4 linked regions of the Homo sapiens genome follow. The protein of the gene in region 1 interacts with the protein of each later gene in a pairwise test. Each region holds a gene or a part of one and is shown in the gene's direction. Other genes may lie near its edges. The genes, in order: FAM114A2, TTPA, RAB2A and MIEF2.

What was found.
Region 2: the proteins of FAM114A2 (region 1) and TTPA interact in binary tests that used the Homo sapiens proteins (3 or more experiments, as listed by UniProt).
Region 3: the proteins of FAM114A2 (region 1) and RAB2A interact in binary tests that used the Homo sapiens proteins (3 or more experiments, as listed by UniProt).
Region 4: the proteins of FAM114A2 (region 1) and MIEF2 interact in binary tests that used the Homo sapiens proteins (3 or more experiments, as listed by UniProt).

What each region holds. Positions count from the first base shown.
Region 1 is NC_000005.10:154,021,907-154,028,946, reverse strand, and holds part of FAM114A2 (protein FAM114A2), read left to right. Parts: intron 1-663; coding exon 664-798; intron 799-1,612; coding exon 1,613-1,771; intron 1,772-2,424; coding exon 2,425-2,548; intron 2,549-7,040.
Region 2 is NC_000008.11:63,069,040-63,076,079, reverse strand, and holds part of TTPA (alpha-tocopherol transfer protein), read left to right. Parts: intron 1-2,991; coding exon 2,992-3,145; intron 3,146-6,933; coding exon of another isoform or gene 6,934-7,040.
Region 3 is NC_000008.11:60,582,963-60,590,002, forward strand, and holds part of RAB2A (ras-related protein Rab-2A), read left to right. Parts: intron 1-1,245; coding exon 1,246-1,328; intron 1,329-1,760; coding exon 1,761-1,853; intron 1,854-7,040.
Region 4 is NC_000017.11:18,263,634-18,267,064, forward strand, and holds the end of MIEF2 (mitochondrial dynamics protein MID49), read left to right. Parts: intron 1-76; coding exon 77-1,131; 3' UTR 1,132-2,919; downstream 2,920-3,431. UniProt on the Homo sapiens protein: Mitochondrial outer membrane protein involved in the regulation of mitochondrial organization.

The sequences.
Region 1 (7,040 bases):
TGAAACACCCAGAGTAAGAAACAGTATTACCGTAATCAGATCTCCCCACCATCTTGTGTCCTCTCCCAGTTTTCTGTGTCTTCTGCTCTCCCCCTCTCCTGCACCAAGATAACCATAATCCTGACTTCCACCATCATAGGTTAATTTTGCCTGCATTTCAGCTTTACATAAGTGGAATCATATATAGTATCTAACTTCTTTCATGCAACATTATATTTGTATAATTTACCTATGCTGCAGTTTGTGTGGTAGATTTGATTTTCTTTGTTGTATTTCATTGTGAAGCTTTGTCACGTTTTATTTATTCATTCCACAGTTGGTGAGCATTGGGGTAGTTTTCAGTTTGTAGCTATTACAAGCAGAGCTGTTATGAACATTTTTGTGCATGTCTTCTGATGAACCTCTGTACTTATTTCTGTTAGGATGTAACCATGAGTGGAATTTCTGGGTCATGCAGCTGGAGTAGATATTGACAAACAGTTTTCTAATGTGGTTATACCTATTTACGTTCCCACAAGCAGTGTGTGATTGTTTCATTTGCTTTACATTCTTGCCAGTGCTTGGTATTGTTAGCCACTATTTTTATATAATAAATACATAATAAAAATGCATAAAAATATGTTTTCTTAATATTGTTGTAATGAGGTTGCATGTATTTTCTAGGGAAAGAGTGTTATAAGTGGGGGTTTGGATGCCTTAGAATTCATTGGAAAAAAGACAATGGATGTGATAGCAGAAGGGGATCCTGGATTTAAAAGAACCAAGGGTCTGATGAACCGAAATGCTACACTATCTCAGGTACTGATTATCCTTACCTGTTTACTTCCTGTTTCTGTTTTGATCTGTATTTTTGCCTTTGTTTACTTGGAACCTTGTTAGTGTTTTCTTTTCAAGCATTTTCAATAATGTTTATTCAGGCGTTTTTTTGGGGGGATCAGGGATGGGTGAGAGCTCTACTGCTTACAAAAATACCCAGCTCTTTTTCTCCTCCTCTTTCTGCAGGAGCCTCCCATCAGTGCAGTGCAAAATGCTAAACCCTGTCAGGGTTTTTTGTTTGTTTGTTTGTTTGTTTTAATGTTTAAATCACTTTCAGAGAAACACCTGGTTCCTTGGGTGTGATTTGCACTGTCTAGGATCAAATTATGTGGTCAGGCACGGTGGCTCACGGCTGTAATACCAGCACTTTGGGAGGCCGAGGTAGGTGAATCAGTTGAGGTCAGGAGTACAAGATCAACCTGACCAACATGATGAAACCCCGTCTCTTCTAAAAATACCAAAATTAGCTGGACGTGGTGGCGTATGCCTATAATCCCAGCTACTTGGGAGGCTGAAACACGAGAATAGCTTAAACCCGAGAGGCAGAGGTTGCAGTGAGCAGAGATCGTGCCACTGCACTCCAGCCTGGGTGACAGAGTGAAACTCCGTCTCAAATTATGTGTGATCGTTTTTCTTTCTGCAGCTCCTGAGCCCACCAGATTTGAATAGCAGTGCCAAGAATGAAAGGGCAATCCTCTGTACTCTAACCTGTCTAAGCTTTGCTTCCTTCAATTCTCAGAACTCACCCTTGAGCTCTCATTGTTTGCTACAGTGTAATGCCTCCATCTCTTTTTAGGTTTTACGAGAGGCGAAGGAGAAAGAAGAGATACGGACCTCCAATGAGGTTACCGTGGAAACAGACAAGAAAACTCATTATGGGCTACTCTTTGATGAATTTCAAGGCCTTTCACATCTAGAAGCTCTGGAGATGCTTTCCCAAGAAAGTGAAATAAAGGTAATTCCAAGCCAAAATCTCAACTGGAAAAAGTCTTCAAGTAAAAGAATGCTGCATGGTTTCCTTTCTCTTTGTACATTTGGAAGATGAAGTGTATGTTTTGTTAGAGGCTTGAGATGCCTTCGAAATACTACCACAAAATAAATTTAAAAACTAATGTTTGATTGAACTAATTGCTAAAAGCAGAATTAGTCAAGTATTATTTCTTTAAATTTAAACAAAAAAGGTTAACAAAGAGGTCTTAATAGGACATGTGTTATTTTTCCTTCGTTTTGGTCTTTTTTTTTTTTTTTTAGTTTCTTTGGCCTAGGCTGCCAAGAAACCTGTTGACTTGAGCTGCCAATTTGTGTACAGTTACCTGTTAGCTTTTAATTGATTTAAGATTATCTAATTTTTTTGTTATTTCTAAGCTGTTGCTAAACACTGATAATTTCCAGGAATTTCTGGCTGGTATTACTTTTAGAAGCACAGAGTCTCCCTACCTTTCTGTCATAACCAGCCTCTTGTGTTAAGGTTCTTAAGGAATAACTTGTGCTGGCTGATGAGCTCATAATTTTGACTTCAATATGATCTTTTTATAGTCTCTTCCCTATTTGTGAATGTTTTTCTTTTCTTTCATACTCCTACAACATTTTGTTCTTGTATCCATTCAGGTGAAATCTATCCTTAATTCTCTGAGTGGAGAAGAATTAGAGACTCTAAAAGTTGAATTAGAGCAACTCAAAGAAACATTTTCTCTAGCAGAATTTTGTGAAGAAGAGGAAGAAGAGAAAAAAGGTAATATGAAAATTTAGTATCTGAGTGGAGAGGATGCAGTGTGTTTGTATGCAGTGCATTGCCCTTGAAATAAATTATTTACTCTTATTACACTGGCTTGATTTTACTTTTTTGGTGAAAATTTTTATGCAAATTCTCTGTGTAAAATTCTCTGCAGCCTTGCACCTGACTAGGCATTGATGGGGGCAGTTGGCCTTATGCCCATGTCTCCCTGCCTCCTTCCAACCAAACCCTTTGTGGCTTCTCAAGGTCTAATCTTGCAACTCACATCTTTGCCTATTTTTGCAGTTAGAAAGCTGTTCTCATCAGATTCTTGCCTCAGTTTGACTGGTCATTCATATGAGCTTTCATATTCCTAGGTACTTTACCTCTGCCTCTCTGACTCTTGTAACCCCTGATTCTGTCTTGAATTGAAGCATGCAGGATGGCAGTTATCTAAAATGTGGGTGATAGTTTGTCTTTTTTTATTTTGAAAACTCTTATACCATATTTTAATATCTTCATTTCTCAGAAAATGTAAATGTAGATACTATGTATATTTGCAAAATTATCAGGAAATGAGATGGGTCAGGAAATGAGATGGCTGACGTAAAGTATAATTGCCAGGCAACTGAATATTAAGTTCTAAGGGTTGTTTTATTGACATTTTAGCTGGAAATATTTCTAAGATATACACTAACTGACCTTTTTTTTTTAAAAAAGTGGAATCTAATGAATACAGTTTTGCCTTTTCTTCATGAAATAATCAGTTATAAACATTAAAAGTGAATGGAAAAATTCTCTCAGGTTTCATTAAGACATAGGGCCAATCACCCATGTAGTAGGTTAAATCAGTGATGAACAAAGTGTGGTCTGTAGACCCTTGAATTCCCAGAACCCTTTCAGGGAGTCTATGAGTCAGAACTCTGCATCATAATACTAAGATGTTGTCTACTTAGGAATTTTTTAAAAATTATAATGAGTTTTTTTTCTGCTTTGGCATTTGTGCTGTTGGTGAATAACAATGATGCATAAAATTGCTGGTGCCATAACATGGATCAAGATGTTAGCAGACTCTACTAGTGTCATTGCATTTTCATTGCCATGCATTGGCAGTTAAAAAAAAAAGTGCCAGTTTTATTTAATCTTGTCCTTGATGAAGCAGTAAAAATTATTAATTTTATTAAATCTTTACCTTTAAGTATGCATCTTACAAATATTCTGTGTGATGCCTACTGAAGTATGATGGTTGTCTCAGGAAAAGCACTTACATTATTTGAGTTGTGAGCTGAACTATGTGCTTTTTTCGTGGAATACCATTTTTACTTGAAAGGATAACAGTCACAGAGACTATTCAGAATAGGATAATTGGTACACATTTTCCTGAAAATGAATGAAGTGAACCTTTTCTTCAAGGAGAGCAACTAATTTATTTGTGAGTCATGATAAAAATTTAAGTGAAGGTTGAAACTTTGTAAAACATATTTGCTGCTGTGGTGAGCTTGACAGCTTCCCAGTGCTTATAGACTCTTCTTATGAAATTGGTGGTGATCATATTTGTTAAAATATCACTTTTTGATATTTTAACAAGGAAATGTGTCAGCATTTGGAAAGTCTGCATAACTCAGAGAACCAATATTTTCTAAATGTCAAATCACCATGGGTAAAAGACCTAATGGATTTTAATTTAGTGTACAAAATTTTATGATATGGTTTCAGGTATACTGCAATATGGTTCATTGCAACTAATTTTTAAGAAACGACCACTTGTTGAGTTTTAATGTGGTATTAAAGAATATTAATAATGATCTGAAAAGGCTATTAAAATACTTCTTCCCTTTCCAACTATGTATCTTTGTAAAGTTGGATTTTCTTCATATACTTAAAGCAACATAACAGACTGAATATAAAAGTAGATAAGAGAATTTAGCTGTCATCTGTTAAACTAGATATTAAAGAGATTCAACCCTGATGGCACTGTTCTCACTAAACTTTTTCTTTTTTGAAAAATATAGTTTTTTAAAATAAAAAGTAGGTTTATGTTAATAAGTGGTATGGGTTTACTGTTTTGAATGAATTAATAAACACTTTGTTTTAGCTTTATATAAATATTTATAACTTTTTATATGTATATGTATAAAACTTACACTAAAAAAGCTCTTTAATGTTCTCAGAAAGTTTTACAAGAACAAGGTCCTGAGACCAACAAGTTTGAGAATTACCAGATTAAATGACCTAAACTGCAATGCTTTTTAGAAATGTCTCTGATTGCTTTTTAGAATTGTACATCTTTATTTCTTTCTGTTCATTTATCTGTTCATCTTTTACTTCACTGTTAGCTGGCTTCTGATATCCCCTGAATCTTATTTGGTTTTCTATTTCTAATCTGTGGGTGAGAAACCAGGTAACTAATTTTATTTGAGATGTCTATTAAAAGCAAAGAGCTCTGAGTGAGGGTCTTAGAGTCTTTCTTGTGACAGGAAACATAAAGTTAACTGTGTGGATTCTCTACAAACAGGGACTTTTTTTTCTTTTTCTTTTTAAATCAGTTAAGGAGAAGAAATATACATGTATATCATTTATAATTACATAGTTATCTTTACCAGTGCTTTTTGTCTTCTGTTTTTTTCAATTTTTTTTATTTCCATAGGTTATCAGGGAACAGGTGGTGTTTGATTACATAAGTTCTTTACTGGTGATTTGTGAGAATTTGGTGCACCTATCACCTGAGCAGTATACACTGCACCCAATTTGTGCACCTGAGCAGTATACACCACACTCCCTTCCCATCCTTTCCCCCTGAGTCCCCGAAGCCCATTGTGTCATTCTTAAGCCTTTGCATCCTCATAGCTTAGCTCCTACTTGTGAATGAGAGCATATGATGTTTGGTTTTCCATTCCTGAGTTACTTTACTTAGAACAATAGCATCCAGTCTCATCCAGGTCGCTGCGAATGCATTAATTCATTCGTTTTTATGGCTGAGTAGTATTCCATCATGTATATATATACCACAGTTTCTTTATCTACTCGTTGATTGATGGGCATTTGAGTTGGTTCCACATTTTTGCACTTTTGAATTGTGCTGCTTAAACATGCGTGTGCAAGTATCTTTTTCTTTTTTAAATTATTTTATTAGTATACTTTAAGTTTTAGGGTACATGTGCACAACGTGCAGGCCTGTTACGTATGTATACATGTGCCGTGTTGGTTTGCTGCACCCATCAACTCATCATTTATGTTAGGCACTTCTCCCAATGCTATCCCTCCCCCATCCCCTGACCCCACGACAGGCCCAGGTGTGTGATGTTCCCCGCCCTGTGTCCAAGTGTTCTCATTGTTCAGTTCCCACCTATGGGTGAGAACAAGTGGTGTTTGGTTTTCTGTCCTTGTGATAGTTTGCTCAGAATGATGGTTTCCAGCTTCATCCATGTCGCTACAAAGGACATGAACTCATCCTTTTTTATGGCTGCATAGTATTGCATGGTGTATATGTGCCACATTTTCTTAATCCAGTCTATCATTGATGGACATTTGGGTTGGTTCCAAGTCTTTGCTATTGTGAATAGTGCTACAATAAACATATGTGTGCATGTGTCCTCATAGTAGCATGATTTATAATCCTTTGGGTATATATCCAGTAATGGGATCACTGGGTCAAATGGTATTTCTAGTTCTAGATCCTTGAGGAATCACCACACTGTCTTCCACAATGGTTGAACTAGTTTACACTCCCACCAACATTGTAAAAGCATTCCTATTTCTTCACATCCTCTCCAGCACCTGTTGTGTCCTGACTTTTTAATGATCGCCATTCTAACTGGTGTAAGATGGTATCTCATTGTGGTTTTGATTTGCATTTCTCTGATGACCAGTGATGATGAGCATTTTTTCACGTGTCTATTGGCTGCATACATGTCTTCTTTTGAGACATATCTGTTGATATCCTTTGCCCACTTTTTGATGGGGTTGTTTGATTTTTTCTTGTAAATTTGTTTAAGTTCTTTGTAAATTCTGGATATCAGCCCTTTGTCAGATGGGTAGATTGCAAACATCTTCTCCCATTCTGTAGGTTGCCTGTTCACGCTGATGGTAGTTTCTTTTGCTGTGCAGAAGCTCTTTAGTTTAATTAGATCCCATTTATCTGTTTTGGCTTTTGTTGCCATTGCTTTTGGTGTTTTAGTCATGAAGTCCTTGCCCATGCCTATGTCCTGAATGGTATCGCCTAGGTTTTCTTCTAGGGTTTTTATGGGTTTAGGTCTAAGTCTAATCCATCTTGAATTGATTTTTGTATAAGGTGTAAGGAAGGGATCCAGTTTCAGCTTTCTCCATATGGCTAGCCAGTTTTCCCAGCACCATTTATTAAATAGGGAATCCTTTCCCCATTGCTTGTTTTGGTCAGGTTTGTCAAAGATCAGATGGTTGTAGATGTGTGATGTTATTTCTGAGGCCTCTGTTCTGTTCCATTGGTCTATATTTCCCGTTTGGTACCAGTACCATGCTGTTTTGGTTACTG
Region 2 (7,040 bases), on another chromosome or scaffold:
GAGAGAGCCTGCGCTGTCAAATACACTGCACTTGCCTCTTATATTTAAAACAACAAACATATAAAACAGCTAACCATTCACTTCTCTGCCTGTTCTACATAGTCTCATGAATTCCTTATATCAAGTGATAGCCTAGTTCCTTATACTTTTGTTCCATGTGATAAGCTTTTTATGCTATAATTATCTTTATGGTTTTCCCAAAGCTTTCCAAATTCCATAGATTCTCCCTGCTAATTTCTCTCTAAATGCAGCTTCTTTTATAAAATTTTTCATATCATGTGTCCATTTCAGTTTCCACTCTGCTCCTGATAGTTATTGCCTTTGAACAAATGTGTAATTTCTCATAGCTTTACTTTACTTTTTTTTTTTTTTTTTTTTTTTGAGACGGAGTCTGGCTCTGTCGCCCAGGCTGGAGTGCAGTGGCGCAATCTCGGCTCACTGCAACCTTCGCCTCCCAGGTTCAAGCGATTCTCCTGCCTCAGCCTCCTGAGCACGCACCACCACACCCAGCTAATTTTTGTATTTTTAGAGATGGGGTTTCACCATATTGGCCAGGATGGTCTTGATCTCTTGACCTCGTGATCCATCCGTTTTGGCCTCCCAAAGTGCTGGGATTACAGGCATGAGCCACTGTGCCTGGCTGGAGCTTTACTTTTCTTATTCTTATAATGCCACAACAGTAGCTACTTCTCAGGGTGATGGTGAGGAGGAATTCAAAAGATGGCATTAGACCCTATAAAAGTGCTCCAAATATGGTGGTTCTTATTTTGTTTCAAAGTACATGAAACATGTAAGAAGAAACCTACTCTGTTACAAAACATAGTTAACCCATAACATTTTAAATGTTTATTTACTTCTAATGTTTGCAAAACAGACACCTTCCAATGATGAATATTTATTTTTAGCCACTTCTTTGTTGTTGTTGTGGACATAGGGTGGTTTGTTTGAGAATTGCTCAGTAGCAGTTTATTTACATAATTTATTTATGACAGCTATACTGTGAATTTATGTATCAGTGGATAAGTAAAGACCAAAGTTCCAGGTTTAGATCTTTCAGTTTGCAAAAATTGTGCGAGATAGTGATTTGTGCCTCTTTACAGAAGTCAGTTTTTCAAGTGTGTGGTTCCAGTTGGTTTACTCATGACTTAATTTATTCTTTCATTCAACACGTGTTGTTATCTCCTGGGTGTGCAGCACTCTGCAGAGATGAATAAGCTGAGGCCCCTGCCAGTATTAAACCTAAATGATCCCTTCTAATGAAGCCACAACTTTTATCATTCCACAGGAAAAAAAAACACATTATTTCTATATAGTTACTAATGTGCAGCTTCCAGCATTTTACTTGAATTGGAATGAAAAAGATTTTTATGTCTGAGGAAACTATCAGAAAAGTAAAAAGCATTGTAAAATACTGTTAACAGTTATTCTGGTACCCCCTAAGACTGGAGGAGGAAGAGAAATGCACCGTGTAGAGTAGAATGAAGATATTAGGACCTACAATGTGCCTGTTGTTCTCATGCTTTTGGAAACTGCTATTTAGGTCACCAATTATTTCTTTGTTGGCAAATTGACTTTTTTCTTTCTTACTCCTCTCTTGCATTTAACTCTTAGCAACATTCTCTCTTTTTTCAAAGTTAAGAAAGGTTTATTAAATACAGAAATGAAATAGAGGGAGACAGACAGAGAGAGAAAGAGAGGGAGATAAATCAGAGATGGGGGTGAGGGGGAGCAGAGCAATGCAGATGGCACTGTCCTCCCTCTCGTGTACCAGTGCTGGTTCTCTTCAGGTCCACTCAGTTTCTGTCTTCCTCCAGCCATTCCCAGCCATTAACATTTCCCAAGGCTCAGCATTTCCCTCTCTAGTTTTTGTCGTTTGTAGTTTCTCCTCCAGATCATTGTGATTTTTGTGGTTATAGTTACCTTGTTTATTCCAATTACTCTCAAATATAAAATCTGTCATTTTCTCTGCACTGCAGTCTCACATTAATAAGTCTCTTTAAACTCAAAACAAATGTATTGTAACTTGTGAAAAATTGAGAGTGCCAAAAATCATGAGAATAAAATTAAAATATAAATATAATAATTTTTAAATACATAATTTGCTTTAGTATTTTCCACAATATGCTGGTAGTGTTTGTATGTTTGCGTATATGATTAGCTATTTCCGGTGGTTCTTTTGGAAAGAAAGAAAATGGGATTTCTTCAGACCATATTTTGACAAGATCCAGTATCCAAGTATACTGCTCCTGGGCTCTTCTAACTCATTTGATTGATTTCTATACTTCCTTATTTCAAAAAATACTAAAAGTGGTGTTTCAGCTTTCTATTGCTGAGCAACAAGTCACTCCAAGAATTAGTGGCTGAAAACACAATGATTTATTTGTTTTTGATATCACCAGTTTGGGCAGGGCTCAGTGGGAGTGGTTCATCTCTGTTCCACATGGCATTAGATGGGAACTTGGCTGAGGTCACACTATCCAGGATGTCCTCTCAACCTCCATGCCTCTCTCCACATGAATTGCTATCATTCAGTAATCTCACATAGTGTCTGGATCCCAAATAGTACATTCAGAAGGTACCAGGCTTCTTAAAGCTTGGCCCACACAGTATCACTTCTGCCAGTTGATATTAGATCAAAGCAAGGTGGAAGGCCAGCCTAGATTCAAGGGGAGTGAAGCAAATAGATGCCATCTCTTAATGGGAAGAATGGTGCATGGGTATCAGGAGGGGAGGAATTGGTGGCTGTCTTTGGAGGATATCTACCATGGGTGGTGAATGAAAGTTGCTCAGCTCTGAATTTGTGATTAACCCCTGTCACCTCAGATCCTTGATAAAAGAACTTTCAGTTTTCACAGCTGAAAAGATACCCTAGATTAAACTCTTGACATAATGGATGGCAAAGTTTATACACAATGCCAAAGCTTTTCTTCCATTTTTACAAAATCATTACCATGTATGCCATTTGTAGACAATTTTAATTTTATTTTTCAGTTACTAAAAAACTATTATAAGTGGAGAGCAGAATGTCCAGAAATAAGTGCAGATCTACACCCTAGAAGTATTATTGGCCTCCTAAAGGCTGGCTACCATGGAGTCCTGAGATCCAGGGATCCCACTGGCAGCAAAGTTCTTATTTACAGAATCGGTAAGTCATACACAACTCTTTTTTTTTTCTCCTCTCCTCCAGTTCAGTTGTGTTCCCTCCCCTCTCCTCTTCTCTCTTTCTTCCATTTCTTCCTTGAATACCATATAGAAAGCTTCAATGCATTCATCTTTAGGAATTTGGGCTTTAATTTAAAATTTTAGGTTTTAACTTAGATTTAATTTAGGTCTTAATGTCCCCCAAATATAATAACACTTTGGTAATTGTGAGAAAATTAACAGATACAAGTGAAAATCCTAGTTCCATTCTTCCACACAGTCAACTGTACAAAATAAGAAGAAAGGAAAATAGTGAAGATGAATAGTGTGAGAATATTTTAAAAAATCATGGAAAAGTGTTTCAAAAATGCTTAGTAGGAAGTGCAAATAAGAATTCTGAACTATTGGCTGGGCATGGTGGCTCACACCTGTAATCCCAGCTGAGGTCAGGAGTTCGAGACCAACCTGGCCAACATGGTGAAACCCCGTCTCTACTAAAAGTACAAAAATTAGCTGGGTGTGGTGGTGCATACCTGTAATCCCAGCTACTCGGGAGGCCGAGGCAGGAGGATTGCATGAACCTGGGAGGCAGAGGTTGCAGTGAGTCAAGATTGCGCCATTGCACTCCAGCCTGGGCAAAAGAACAAGAGTCCGTCTCAAACAAACAAACAAAAAACAACCAGAATTCTGGGCTATAATGTAAACTCCATGAGATTGTGGATTTCATCTACTCTGTTTGCTGGTGTATCCCAAGCACTGAAAACATGGTCTGGTACTTGGTAGGTAGTCACTAAATATTTGTGGAATGAGTGAGTGAATGACTAGTTCGAAAATGCCCCAGGCCGAGGAGCAAGAGGCTCATTCTCTTGGGTGGAGGAGGGTGCAGAGGAAAGGCAACTCCTCTGGGAGCTGTTGCAGACACGGTATTCCATTAACTCCTGTTTATTCTCATTGCATCCCCTTTTTTTCTATTAGGTGTAGCTAGTGTTTCTTGTAGGTTGGTGTCTTAGTGTATTCAGGCCACTATAACAAAATGACGTAGACTGGGTGACTTATAAAAACAGAATTTTATTTCTCACAGTTCTGGAGGCTGGGAAATCCAAGATCAAGGCACTGGCAGATTTGGTGTTTGGTGAGGGCCTGCTACCTGGTTCCTAGGTGACATCTCTCACTTTAACCTCACATGTTGGAAGTGAAAAGGCATCTCTCTTGGAACTCATAAGGGCACTAATCCCATTCATGAGGGTTCCATCCTCATGACCTCATCATCTTGCAAAGGGCCCACCTCTTACTACCATCACTTTGGGAGTTAGAATTTCAGCATATGACTGTTGAGGGGATGCAAACATTCAGATCATAGCAGTTGGTGACCTATAACTTCTGTCCTCCCTCAGACCTGCATATGATTAAAAATGGCCGGCACAGGAGAACGACTCACACTATTCCCAGAATTTCTCATGGCCCAGTTGAAGGACAAAGATAAACCAACATTTCATGACCAGAATTTTTTAATTATAATTTTACAGAAACAACTATATCTTTAAAGATTTAAAATATTTAAATATTTGCATTTCTTGCCTGCTTATAGATAAGATACCTGCCTGTAACTCAACTGCTTGCCATACTGCAAGAAGTTACTGTATTTAATTTTTGAAAGGATATTGGAAGATCGAGTAAAATGATTTGGGGCTGTTTTTTAATTTTTTTTGCCCTAGCTTAAGTGTCAAATAAAATTGAGTTAATCATGAAATCCCATCTATAAAACAGACATCATGATCTTCCTGTTCTTTCATTGCTGCACCAGTGTCAGAGGAAATTGAATGAGCTCATAGCAATGAAGTTCCTTGAGCTTCTTAGGGGTAGTCTTGCCAGATTTAACAAAGTACCTATGTTTTATTTAGGAAATAAACCTATATGTTATAAAAATAAAGGATGCCCAGTTATTTGAATTTCAGATAAACAACAGTTTTTTTAAAGTATGTATGGAGCATTCTTATGTTAAAAATTATATACTGGTTATCTGAAATTCAACTTTAATTGAGTGTTGTATATTTTTACCTGGCAACTCTACTCAGGGATCCAAGAAACATAAAACTGAAACCTGCAGCTAATTATTTTTGTAAATGTCTTGGCTCTGCATTGTCTGGCTAGATTTTATTGTGTCTAGTTTGTTCATAAAGTGACTGAGGCAGGTGAAGAAGTAAAAGTGACACCTTGATAGTGAGAAAGCAGATGTGCAGTTTTGATCATAAATACCTTAACACTGAACCAGTAGGGGTATTTTTCTGGGCCTCATGTAGCACATTAATTTAGAAGTATATTGTTTAACTCAAGAGATTTGAAAATCAAGAAAACATGTAACTTAGTGATGGTCAGAACAGGAAGGTATGTTGCAAATCTCCTGTATGTTCTGTTATTCTAGGATGAAAGGGAGAAACTCAGAAAGTTTTATGAGTAAAATGAAAACTTTTCTAAATTTGATTGAATTAATGGGAGGAGCTAAAGAAGGAAATCTGTGGTGGAACTTTTCGGTAGAACTTTAGCATAACCACCTTCTCTAGATACCATCTCTGTGCAGTAAAAGCAATGAGAAAATGCACACAGCCCTTTCCTCCATGCGGGCCGGGCAACCCAAGGTGAAGCTAAGTTTTGACCTTTATCAGCCAACATGCTGTAGGATATAATTTTATGTTTTTTGAGATCCCATAGTATACTACTAGCAGCAAAAGTAAAATTTAACAGTGAGTGTGAAGTTTTGACTGTGGCTTAGTTCTTGTGAATACAGGTTCTGGAGCATGTGACCTGGATTGGAATCTCAGCTCTGCTACATTCTAGCTGTGTGAAACACTATGTAGCTGTAACTGCATTTTCTCATCTGTAAAATGGGCACATTGAAAAGCTGTCACATAGGGTTGCTGTAAGCATTAAATCAATCTATCAGTCTGTCTATCTAAAATATAACAAGAGCATTACCTGGTACATAAAAGCACTCAATACATATTAAGTAGATACTGGAGAAGGAATTCAAAATATAAGGTATATTTTTCTTTTGCCTCAATGGAGCTTAAATTCTAGCCAGCACTGTACCATAGAACTTTCTATGATGATGAAACTGTTCTACAATAGACACTATTCTCATGTGGCTATTGAGCACTTGAAATGTGACTACTGCAACTAAGAAACAGATTTTTTTTTTTTTTTTCTAAGCTAGGGTCTTACTCTGCCATCTGGGCTAGAGTGCAGTGGCACAATCATAGCTCACTGCAGTCTTGAACTCCTGGGCTCAAGTGATCCTCCCACTTCGGCTTTTGGAGTAGCTGGGACTAGAGGCATGTGCTACCACACTCAGCCAGTTTTTTTATTATTTTTATTTTTTAGAGATGCATTCTCACTATGTTGCCCAGGATGGTCTCACTCCTGGCCTCAAGCAATCCTCCCCCATCAGACCCACAAAGTGCTGGGATTCTAGGCATGAACCACTGCACCTGGTGAAACTAAATCTTTAATTTAAATTTGAATGACCACACATGGCTAATGGCTACCATATTAGCCAGTGTAGGCCAAACAATTATGTTGGTTGGCTCAGAACTTAGGACATAAACTATTTTTTTGATTGGCAAACTTCATATGTTCTTTTTTTTTTTTTTAATCATTATAGCATTCAGCCAATGTCTGAAGTTAGTATAGTATTTTTGATCTGGGTTATCCATGGGTTGATTGTTCAAATTCTTATGAGAAATCTGAGGCTTGTTTTTTTGTTTTGTTTTGTTTTGTTTTGTTTTTTTGAGACAGAGTCTTGTTCTGTTGCCCAGGCTGGAGAGCAGTGGGCCATCTCGACTCACTACAACCTCTGCCTCCCGAGTTCAAGCGATTCTCCTGCCTCAGCTTCCCAAGTAGCT
Region 3 (7,040 bases), on another chromosome or scaffold:
TCACTCAACAGGCTTTCTCTGAATGCCTGCTATATGCCGGACCCAGTGCCTAGCACACACTTAGTCACATGCAGGGGGTGGGGGATGGGGGAGGGAGGGAGTATAGAGGAAGGGTCAACAAGAGCAAGGTATTGTAGAGTGTTGAGTGTTAAACAGGGTAGAATATGAGCCGTCCATGCGCATTCTGAGGGTGGGAAGGGCTAAATATTTACATTGCAAGATCAGAACTCAGAATGTGTAAACATCAATATTTTTCAAGTTAGGGGATTTTGAATATAAAAATCGTTAAAATTGGCTTTACGTTTACTTAATTAAAATGCTTATGTTTTTGCAAAAGTAGGAAAAGAAGGGATTAAAAATGAAAAATAACTTCTTATAAGAGCTGTCTCGGTTTTAAACTCAGACAGAACAGTCACATTCCTCCCCAGCAATTCTTAAAAAAACAGAAATTAGTACCATGAGTAAAAGAGAAATTACCTAGCTTTGCATAATCTCTTGTGTCTGTTTCACAAGTGGATATAAAGATGACTTTTACATCCTGTTGCCTTTTGACAAGCATTATATATCAAATACAGAGAAAATTGATTAAGTGTGGAGAAAAAAACTTATATAAATTAAATTCAGAACCATTTTGCTTTTCATAATAAAATGATTGCTCAAAGAATTCCATTTGATGACTGTTGAAAGCTCACTGCAGTTTATGATATAACTGATAAAATCTGCATCCTTGGCCTTCCAACAACCTTTACACCAGCAGATGGTGGGCGTAAAGATGTCATTCATCATTTATTTACAATGGGTTTTATTTATTCTAGTGTCAACAGCTGCCCCAGGGAGTGGGTTATTGAATTCAAATGTGAGGCTCTGGGTTATTTGCTTCCTTTCAAATTTGTCTTCAGAGCTTAGTTGCTAGGAGTCCATTCTGTCCTTTAATAATGATTCGTGTATTGTGAAGCCATTCAGTAAATTGGGTTGTCAGGGATTGCCAAAAAGGGTTTAGAGGTCTTGCGGGCTGGGGAGGTTGCAGGAGCGACTACATGTGCACTACATGTGCGTCTCGTTGACTTGAGCAATCTTGAGCAATAGCGGTGTTTTGTAACTTTTTCCTAAGACTGGTGAAGTTAAGTTTTCTTGTCTCTCTTTATGCACTCCTTCCCTACCTGCTCTTATTCTGTATATGAATAATATGAAAATGTAGAGGACATTGTATTAAAGGAAACTCTCCAACCTTTTTTTTCGTTACAGGCAGGGCAAGAATCCTTTCGTTCCATCACAAGGTCGTATTACAGAGGTGCAGCAGGAGCTTTACTAGTTTACGATATTACACGGTGAGAACTTGAAAACTTTGCAATTCAGTAGTTGATACAGAGAATTTTTCTAAATAGATGTGGTTAACAGTAATGAAAGAATAGCTTAGCCTTTCTGCCCCGGCTACTCACCTTTAAAACTGCATCTTGAGTCCAATTTAAATTTACTACAGAAACCTGCAACTGAATTGTTTTTCTTATTTGAATTAGCACCTTCAAATTGAAATCGGCCATATTATTTATTCATTGGAATTTTCTAAAGTGTGATTACATTTAATTTATAAACTGAAATACAATCAGTGAACTCTAAACCCAGATATGGTGCTTAAAACTACTTCTCGTTACATAAGTGGATATGGCTAAAAGTGGTTCTCTTTAAAAATATGTATATTGTTCGTTGTATACTGAGGGAAATGCTTTGAACATAGTAATTAAATTATTATTTATGTTTAGGAGAGATACATTCAACCACTTGACAACCTGGTTAGAAGATGCCCGCCAGCATTCCAATTCCAACATGGTCATTATGCTTATTGGAAATAAAAGGTAAAAAGGCTAATTTAGAGCTTACATTGCATTAGTGATGAAGACTGTACTGTTTATTTGACTACTTTCCTTAACATTTGTTCAAATGTGAGTTACCAGCCTCTTAAATTATAAAATTTCGGAAATTCTAAGGTGTTTCTTTTGATTTTTAAAATGATGTTAATAAGCTTTGTTGGAAATTATTACTGTTATTATTAGAAATAGTTTTTGTGTAAAGAAATACTTTAAAAAGTAATCTGAAGGAGTTTTATCAGATTACTGATGTAAAGTAAAGCCTACTGATTTATTTGGGGAGTTGGATTGAACATCTTTGTGCTGTCAATTTAAAATGCTATTATATGGGAAAACCTTCTTGCTTGACCAGTTTCCATAAACTTCTAAGAGTGTGGGAAAGTTTTCACTAATTTTTGTAGAAACTTACAGTGGTAAGAAAATATTAGTATTTTCAAAATGCTAGGCACCATTCTTTTTGTTTTGTTTTGTTTTGTTTTGTTTTGTTTTGTTTTGTTTTGTTTGAGACAGGGACTCACTCTGTTACCCAGGCTAGAGTGCAGTGGTGTGATCATAGCTCACTGCAGCTTGGCCTCCCGGGCTCAAGGGAATCCTCCTGCCTCAGCCTCCAAAGTGGCTGAGACTGTAGGCATGCACAACCACAGCTAGTTTATCTTTTTATTTCTTATAAAGAAAGGGTCTCACTTTGTTGCCCAGGCTGGTCTCAGGCTCCTAACCTCAAGTGATTCTCCCACCTGGGCCTCCAAAAGTACTGGGATTATAGGCATAAGCCACCACACCCGGCCCATTCATTCTTTAGGGTTATATTAATAAAATACTCTGAAGAGATGCTGTTTTTAGATAGGTAAAATCATGACTTATATGATAATGAAGACATCTCAAAACTTTTATCTCATTAATTAACAAGATAAGGAAACTGGTAAGATATTTCAGCCAGTTCAAAAGGGAACTCAAATTACTATACATTGATAATCAAATAAAGAAACTGAAATGAATTTACAAGATGGATGCAAAACTGAACAGTATTCACAGGGTATTAATTGTATTCCACAGGACACAGTCTGCATTTCCATGGACAGGAATTATTTGCGTTTATTCCCACAAGTTAACTTCTCTCTCTGCAGTCTTTGAAAATGTGTGAGATGCAGTTAAAATAGTACTATCAAGAAAATTTTTAAATGAACAGCCTAGGGCCAGGTACAGTGGCTCACACCTGTGATCCCAACACTTTGGGAGGCCCAGGTGGAGGATTGCTTGATCCCAGGAGTTCAAGATCAGCCCGGGCAACACAGGGAGACTCCATCTCTACAACAAATTTTAAAATTTAGCTAGACATGATGGTGCATTCCTGTGATTCCAGCTACTCAGGAGGCTGAGGTGGGAGAATCACTTGAGCCCAGTTGAGGCTGCAGTGAACTGTGTTCATGCCACTGTACTCCAGCCTGAGCAACAAAGCAAGACCTTGTCTCAAAAAAAAAAAGAAAATAGCCTAATTTTTTTGCCTTAAGAAACTAGAATAAGAGCAAATCAAAGTTAAGGAAAGCCTCCTGCCCGTTAAAAAAAAAAGAGAGAGAGAAAACCAATGAAACCAAAAGCTAATTCTTCAGAAGATAAAATAAAATAGATACTGATCAGGAAAAAGACAAACATTAGCAATATCAGGAAAGAAAGGTTGACATCACTATAGATAAAAAAAAGAGAGAGAATATTGTAAACAGACTAAATAAATGAAGAGATATAACCATGTTCATGGATTGTAAAACTAAATATAAGATGTCTTCTCAAATTTATCTAAAAATTCATTGAAGGCCAGGTACAATGGCTCACATCTGTAATCCCAGCACTTTGGGAGGCCAAGGCAGGAGCATCACATGAGGCAAGGAGTTCAAGACCAGCCTGAGAATGTAGCAAGACCCTATCTCTACAAAAAATAAAATAATAATTAAAAAAAACTAGCTAGGCATGCTGGCACACGCCTTTAGCTCTACTTACTCAGGAAGCAGAGGTGAGAGGATCACTTGAATCCAGGAGCTCAAGGTTGCAGTGAGCTATGATTGTGCCACCTGCACTCCAGCCTGGGCAAAAGAGCAAGACTCTGTCTCCAAGAAAAAAAAAAAAAAAAAAAGATTTATTGTAACCCTAATCAAACTATCAAACATTGGCAGACTTTTTTGGGAGGGTAGATATTGACAAGCTGACTTTAAAGTTTATGTGCAAAGGCCACGGAATAGCCAAATCAACTTTGACAAAGAGGCACAATATTGGAGAGAATTTACTATTCTACAAATTTTAAGATTTATTATACTATAGTCAATTTACTATTGTTTGGCATAAGCAGACATAGATCAGTAGAGCCGAATAAGAAGTTCCAGAAGTAGATTCATATATATATGATATATTAATTTTTTGACAGAGATGCTAATTTAGTTGAAGAAGGGGTAATCTTTTTCATCAAATGGTGCTGAAACAGTTAATAGTCATATGTAAAAATATGAACCTCAACTGTTACATTATACCATTTACAAAAATTAACTGGAAGTGGATCATAGACCTAAGTGTGAGAGCTAAAACTACTTAAAATTTCTAAAAGAAAACAAATTGTAGTGACCCTGTTTTGGCAAACATTTCTTAAATGGGACAGAGAAAAGCATGAACTTATAGTTCAGAAAAAAAATCAATAAATTGTTCTTTAACTGAATTTAAAACTTTTGTTCTTCAAAAGACGGTTACACTATTATACAACATCGTGACATGGTTAATGATGATATAGTGCATTCTGGAAAAATGCTGAAAGAGTGGATGTTAAGTGTTCTCACCACAAAAAACGATAACTGTGAGATAATGCAAATTAGCTAGATTAACCATTCCACAGTGTATATATACTTTAAAACAATATGTTGTACATGATAAATATATGCAATTTTACCTATCAATTTAAATAAATAAATTTGAAGAAAAACGGTTACAAAAATGAAAAGACAAGCTACAGACTAGCAGAAAATATTTGTGAAAAATGTATCTGACAAAGGATTTATATCTAGAATATATGAAGAATGCTTATAATTCATTAATAAGAAGACATCCACTTTTTAAAAATGATCTAAAGATTTGAACCAGCAATTACTACAGAAGATATACTACTGATGGGAACGTAAAATGATACAATCACTTTGGAAAACAATTTGGTAGTTTCTTTAGAAATTAAAAGGCCGAGGCGGGAGGATTGCTTCAGCCTAGGAGTTTGAGACCAGCCTGGGCAATGTAGGGAGACTTCTTCTATACAAAAATAAGAAATTTTTTAAAAAAGTAGCTGAACATGGTGGTACATACTTGTAGTCCCAGCTACTCCAGAGGCTGAGGTGGTAGGATCACTTAAGCCTGAGAGGTCAAGGCTGCAGTGAGCCATGATCATGCCACTGTATTCCAGCCTAGGCCACAGAGCAAGACCCTGTCTCAAAAAAAAGAAATAAAGCACACATCTATATTTCCTAGCCACTTTACTCCCAGATGTTTACCCAACATAAATATGTCTTCATGTGTCCACAGAATTATGTACAAATATTCATACCAGCTTTATTTCTAATAGCCCCAAACTGGAAACAACCCAAATATCAATTAACAGATGAATCGAAAAATAGTGATACAGCATTACAACAGACTACAACTCAGCTATAAAGAGGAATGAACTATTGATACATGCAGCAAAATGGATGATTCTCAAAATAATTACAGAGTGAAAAAACTCAGACCAAAAATACCATGTGATTACATTTATATAAAAATCCTAGTAAATGTGTACTAATCTGTAGTGGCAGAAAGCAGATCATCAGCTGCCTAGGGTGCAGGGGCAAGAAGGGATGGATTACAATGGAGTATGAGGAAACTTTTGGGAGACTGATGGCTTCACGGGCTTACATATCTTAAAACTCAACAAATTTTGCATTTAAGTACAACTTCTTTTATGTCTGTTACACCTCAAAAAAGCTATAATGTAAAACATCGTTATACTGTATAGATTTTAGAGTGTTGTTTTAATAGAAATTGAGATTTGCTATTAAGAGAAAATATTACCTAAGTGATATTTACATTATAAAAAGCTAAACATTGTTTACTTCTTTGTGTAGAGAAGAAACTATTATCATATTCTCTGAAGGCCTTTCTTGGGTATTCTTTTCCACATTTAAATCATCTCACTAAACCTTTTTAAGGTTATAAAGCTATTGGAGGGAAGTTTTAGTCTTTCTATGATGGAAATAGTTATTCTGTCATTCAAGGTATGAAATAATAAGAGGAGAATACTTGGAAAATAAAGAGAATTTTTATCCTTTTATTTTACCAATTTTTTCCTTGTGGCTGAAACATGATGAGTGACAGCTTACTGGTGGCTTAAATTTGGTCACCGACCACTAGGAGCTGATAGTTCAAATGTGAGAAGAAATAAACAAAGCATAGTATGTAAACGAGATGTTTCTGATGATCGTAGGTGGGTGACCTTTAAAATCAGGAGTATAACGAACAAGAAAGAACAGAGAGAAATAAATGAGATGATTATTTTTAGATGAATTGAACTGTGGATAGACATCAAAACAGGGAATAAGCAATTTTTGAATTAGACGCATTAAGCAGTAGGGAGCCAGTGAAGGGCAGTGACCTAGTCAGAGCAACAGATGACACAAATTTTTCTTACTATGGCATTTTATTAATAAATTGGTTATATAAGAAATAGGAAGCAGAGATTTAAAAAATGAAAGTTTTTTAATAGTGTAAGGGTTGTAATGCAAACCCTAAACAAAAAGGGGCCATAAATTAAAAGAAAGATACTTAAGTAACCTAAGCAACTTAAGTGGGATTCAGAGGGAGTGAACTAAGACAACAATATGATGTAATGCCTGGAAAACTGAGGTATTTTTAAAACTTTGCACTAAGTATATCGTCAAGTACTATGGCTTTTGAGTTTTTTGATTTGACCTATAGTAAGAAATGTATTTTACATCATGACCTAGTAAATAAATTGTGTATACACCTACACATATAACAAAATATTCGTAAATTATACCTTTATACGTAAGTTCCATGAAACAGTAGATGGAACTTATGTATATAGGTGATAGACTCTGATATTTTATATTGTTTCTTTTTTTTTTCCCTTCCCAAGATGGAGTCTCACTCTGTCGC
Region 4 (3,431 bases), on another chromosome or scaffold:
ACAGCTAGTTCTCGGTGGCGTTTTCTTAACTAATCACAGGCTGTTCCGACATGTTCCCCGCCCCTTCACTCTGCAGAAGGGCCTGCAGAAACTGATCCTGAGGTGACACCACAGCTCAGCTCCCCAGCACCGCTGTGTCTGACACTGCAGGAGAGGCTGCTGGCCTTCGAGCGGGACCGTGTGACCATCCCAGCAGCCCAGGTGGCTTTGGCCAAACAGCTGGCTGGCGACATCGCCCTGGAGCTGCAGGCCTACTTTCGGAGCAAGTTCCCGGAACTGCCCTTTGGGGCATTCGTGCCTGGGGGGCCGCTCTACGACGGGCTGCAGGCGGGGGCTGCGGACCATGTGCGTCTCCTGGTGCCACTGGTGCTGGAGCCGGGCCTGTGGAGCCTGGTGCCGGGCGTGGACACTGTGGCGAGGGACCCTCGCTGCTGGGCCGTGCGCAGGACGCAGCTTGAGTTCTGCCCCCGTGGGAGCAGCCCCTGGGACCGCTTCCTGGTCGGGGGCTACCTCTCCTCCCGCGTCCTGCTGGAGCTACTCCGCAAGGCGCTGGCTGCTTCTGTCAACTGGCCGGCCATTGGCAGCCTTCTCGGGTGCCTGATCCGGCCCAGCATGGCCTCGGAGGAGCTGCTGCTCGAGGTGCAGCACGAACGCCTGGAGCTCACTGTGGCTGTGCTTGTGGCAGTCCCTGGGGTCGATGCTGACGACCGCCTCCTCTTGGCCTGGCCCCTGGAGGGGCTGGCGGGGAACCTCTGGCTGCAGGACCTGTATCCAGTGGAGGCTGCTAGGCTGCGAGCCCTGGACGACCATGACGCTGGGACTCGCCGGCGGCTGCTGCTGCTGCTGTGTGCTGTCTGCCGTGGTTGCTCGGCTCTGGGGCAGCTAGGCCGGGGTCACCTGACCCAGGTGGTCCTGCGTCTGGGGGAGGACAACGTGGATTGGACGGAGGAGGCCTTGGGTGAGCGCTTCCTGCAAGCCCTGGAGCTGCTCATCGGCAGCCTGGAGCAGGCCAGCCTGCCCTGCCACTTCAACCCCAGCGTGAACCTCTTCAGCAGCTTGCGTGAGGAGGAGATTGACGACATTGGCTATGCGCTATACAGTGGCCTACAGGAGCCCGAGGGGCTGCTCTAGGTGGGTGGAAACGGGTGGTTGCCATGTTTTCTAATGCTGGGGAGCTGCACCCACCTCCCTTCCAGGGATTTGAATAGTGGTTTTTCTCTAGCTTTTTGCCAGAACAAAGGAGGGTACATTACTTAAACCCAGGGCATCAGGATGTGCTTGGGCTATGGTGGCCATAAACCCTGAGCCCAGAGAGCTTGGGTCACTGTCACCTGAGTGCAGCTGGGCTGCCTCAGGCAGCTTGGAGTGCCAGCCATTCCTGCAAGCACCGTTTCAGCTCTTGGGGCCAACCCCAGGACCTTTGGCTCTGTCCATCACCAGCAACCAATCCACCAACAGAATGTGGTTTCTGCCATCCTGGGCAGAAGCTGAAGGCCAGCTTCACATTTCTGCTGAGAGAAGGTGACTTAACGCCTTTTCCGGCCCTAGCTCCAGGCGTTTTGAGGCGTCTGGTGCCTGATGGTAGGTATGGTGTGTTTGTTCTGTCCCCCAGGGGCTGGAGTCACCTGGTGCCCCTGAAGGACAGATTTTTGGCTGTTAAAGGATGGCATTTTCCTGCTGTCTTCTGTGCGTTTAGTTTTCTTGCTGAGCGGGAGCTCAGTATGACTTGCCACCCACCTGATACCTCAGGGCAAGGCCCTTTTTCCCTCCAGCCAGGTGAGTGTTTTCTTCAGGCAGCTGAGGGTCCTGGGGGAGCTGAGGCTCTGTGCTGCACCCCCAGCCCACAGCTGGGGCATCTCACTGGAGCTGTTCCAGGCCCCACTGGAGAGCAGAGGACCTGATCCCCCACTAGAGAGGTCCGGTGTGCACAGCCGGCCTCCCAGTGTGCCAAAATGAACTGCTCTCAGCTGATGGCTGTATTCTGACTTTGAAGCCTGTTAAGAGGTAGCAAGGGGGCTAGAGGAGGGAGATTCCACCTCCCCTCCCAAGTGACCCTCCTCCTGCCTCTGGTATCCTTCCTTTTGAAACGAAGCTCAGCTTCGAAGATGTGAACAAGAATAAAAGGAAAAAATTCTAATGTATATATAACTCAGGCTGGATAAGGGAGTCTTGGTGCTTTCATACGCAGCTGTTGAGGGTTTTCTGTAAGTCCTGTGGCTTGTCCTGGCACTTTGGCAAGAGTGCTTGAGGTCAATTGGAGGTGGTAGAGTTTACTTTAAAAAGTAGCATCTTGGCCGGGTGTGGTGGCTCGCATCTGTAATCCCAGCACATCGGGAGGCCGAGGCGGGCGGATCACGAGGTCAAGAGATCGAGACCATCCTGACCAACATGATGAAACCCCAACTCTACTAAAAAGACAAAAATTAGCTGGGCGTGGTGGCACGCACCTATAGTCCCAGCTACTCGGGAGGCCGAGGCAGGAGAATTGCTTGAACCCGGGAGGTAGAGGTTGCAATGAGCTGAAATTGCACCACTGCACTCCAGACTGGCGACAGAGCAAGACTCTGTCTCAAAAAAATAAATAAATAAGCATCTTGGCCCCGCGCTGTGGCTCACGCCTATAATCCCAGCACTTTGGGAAGCCGAGGCCGGTAGATCACCTGAGGTTGGGAATTCAAGACCAGGCTGACCAACGTGGAGAAACTCCATCTCTGGTAAAAATTCAAAAAAATTAGCTGGGCATGGTGGCACATGCCTGTAATCCCAGCTACTTGGGAGGCTGAGGCAGGAGAATTGCTTGAACCCGGGAGGCGGAGGTTGTGGTGAGCTGAGATCGTGCCAGTGCACTCCAGCCTAGGCAACAAGAGTGAAACTCTGTCTCAAAATAAAATAAAATAAAATAATAATAGTAATAATAAATTAGCATCTCAGTCTGTTTGGGCTGTGATAACAAAATGCCATAGACTAGGTGGCTTATAAACATCAGAAATTTATGTCTTACCATTTTGGAGGCTAGAAATCCAAGAGTGAGTCACAGATTCCATGTTTGGTTGAGAGCCCACATCCTGGTTCATAGGTGTCCCCATCTAGCTGTCCTCATGTGGAGGAAGGGGGGAAATGCTCTCCTAGGGTCTCTTATAAGGAAACTAAGCCCACCCATGGGGTGGGGGCCCACATTCATGATCGAATCACTTCCCAAAGACCCCATCTCCTGTTAGCAGTGCCTTGGGGGTTAGGATTTCAGCATACAAGTTGAAGGGGACACAGACTTTCTGTCCGTGACAAGTAAGGTAAGTGGAAGGAAAAGATGAAAAGCTTGGTGTTGCTTTAGTAATGGGAACCAGCCAGTTTGGGATGTTTCTTCCCGCAAGGCTGAACTGCTGAGCCCTGCACCATACTTTCTGTAATTAGTGGGCTGTTGACAGCCCTTC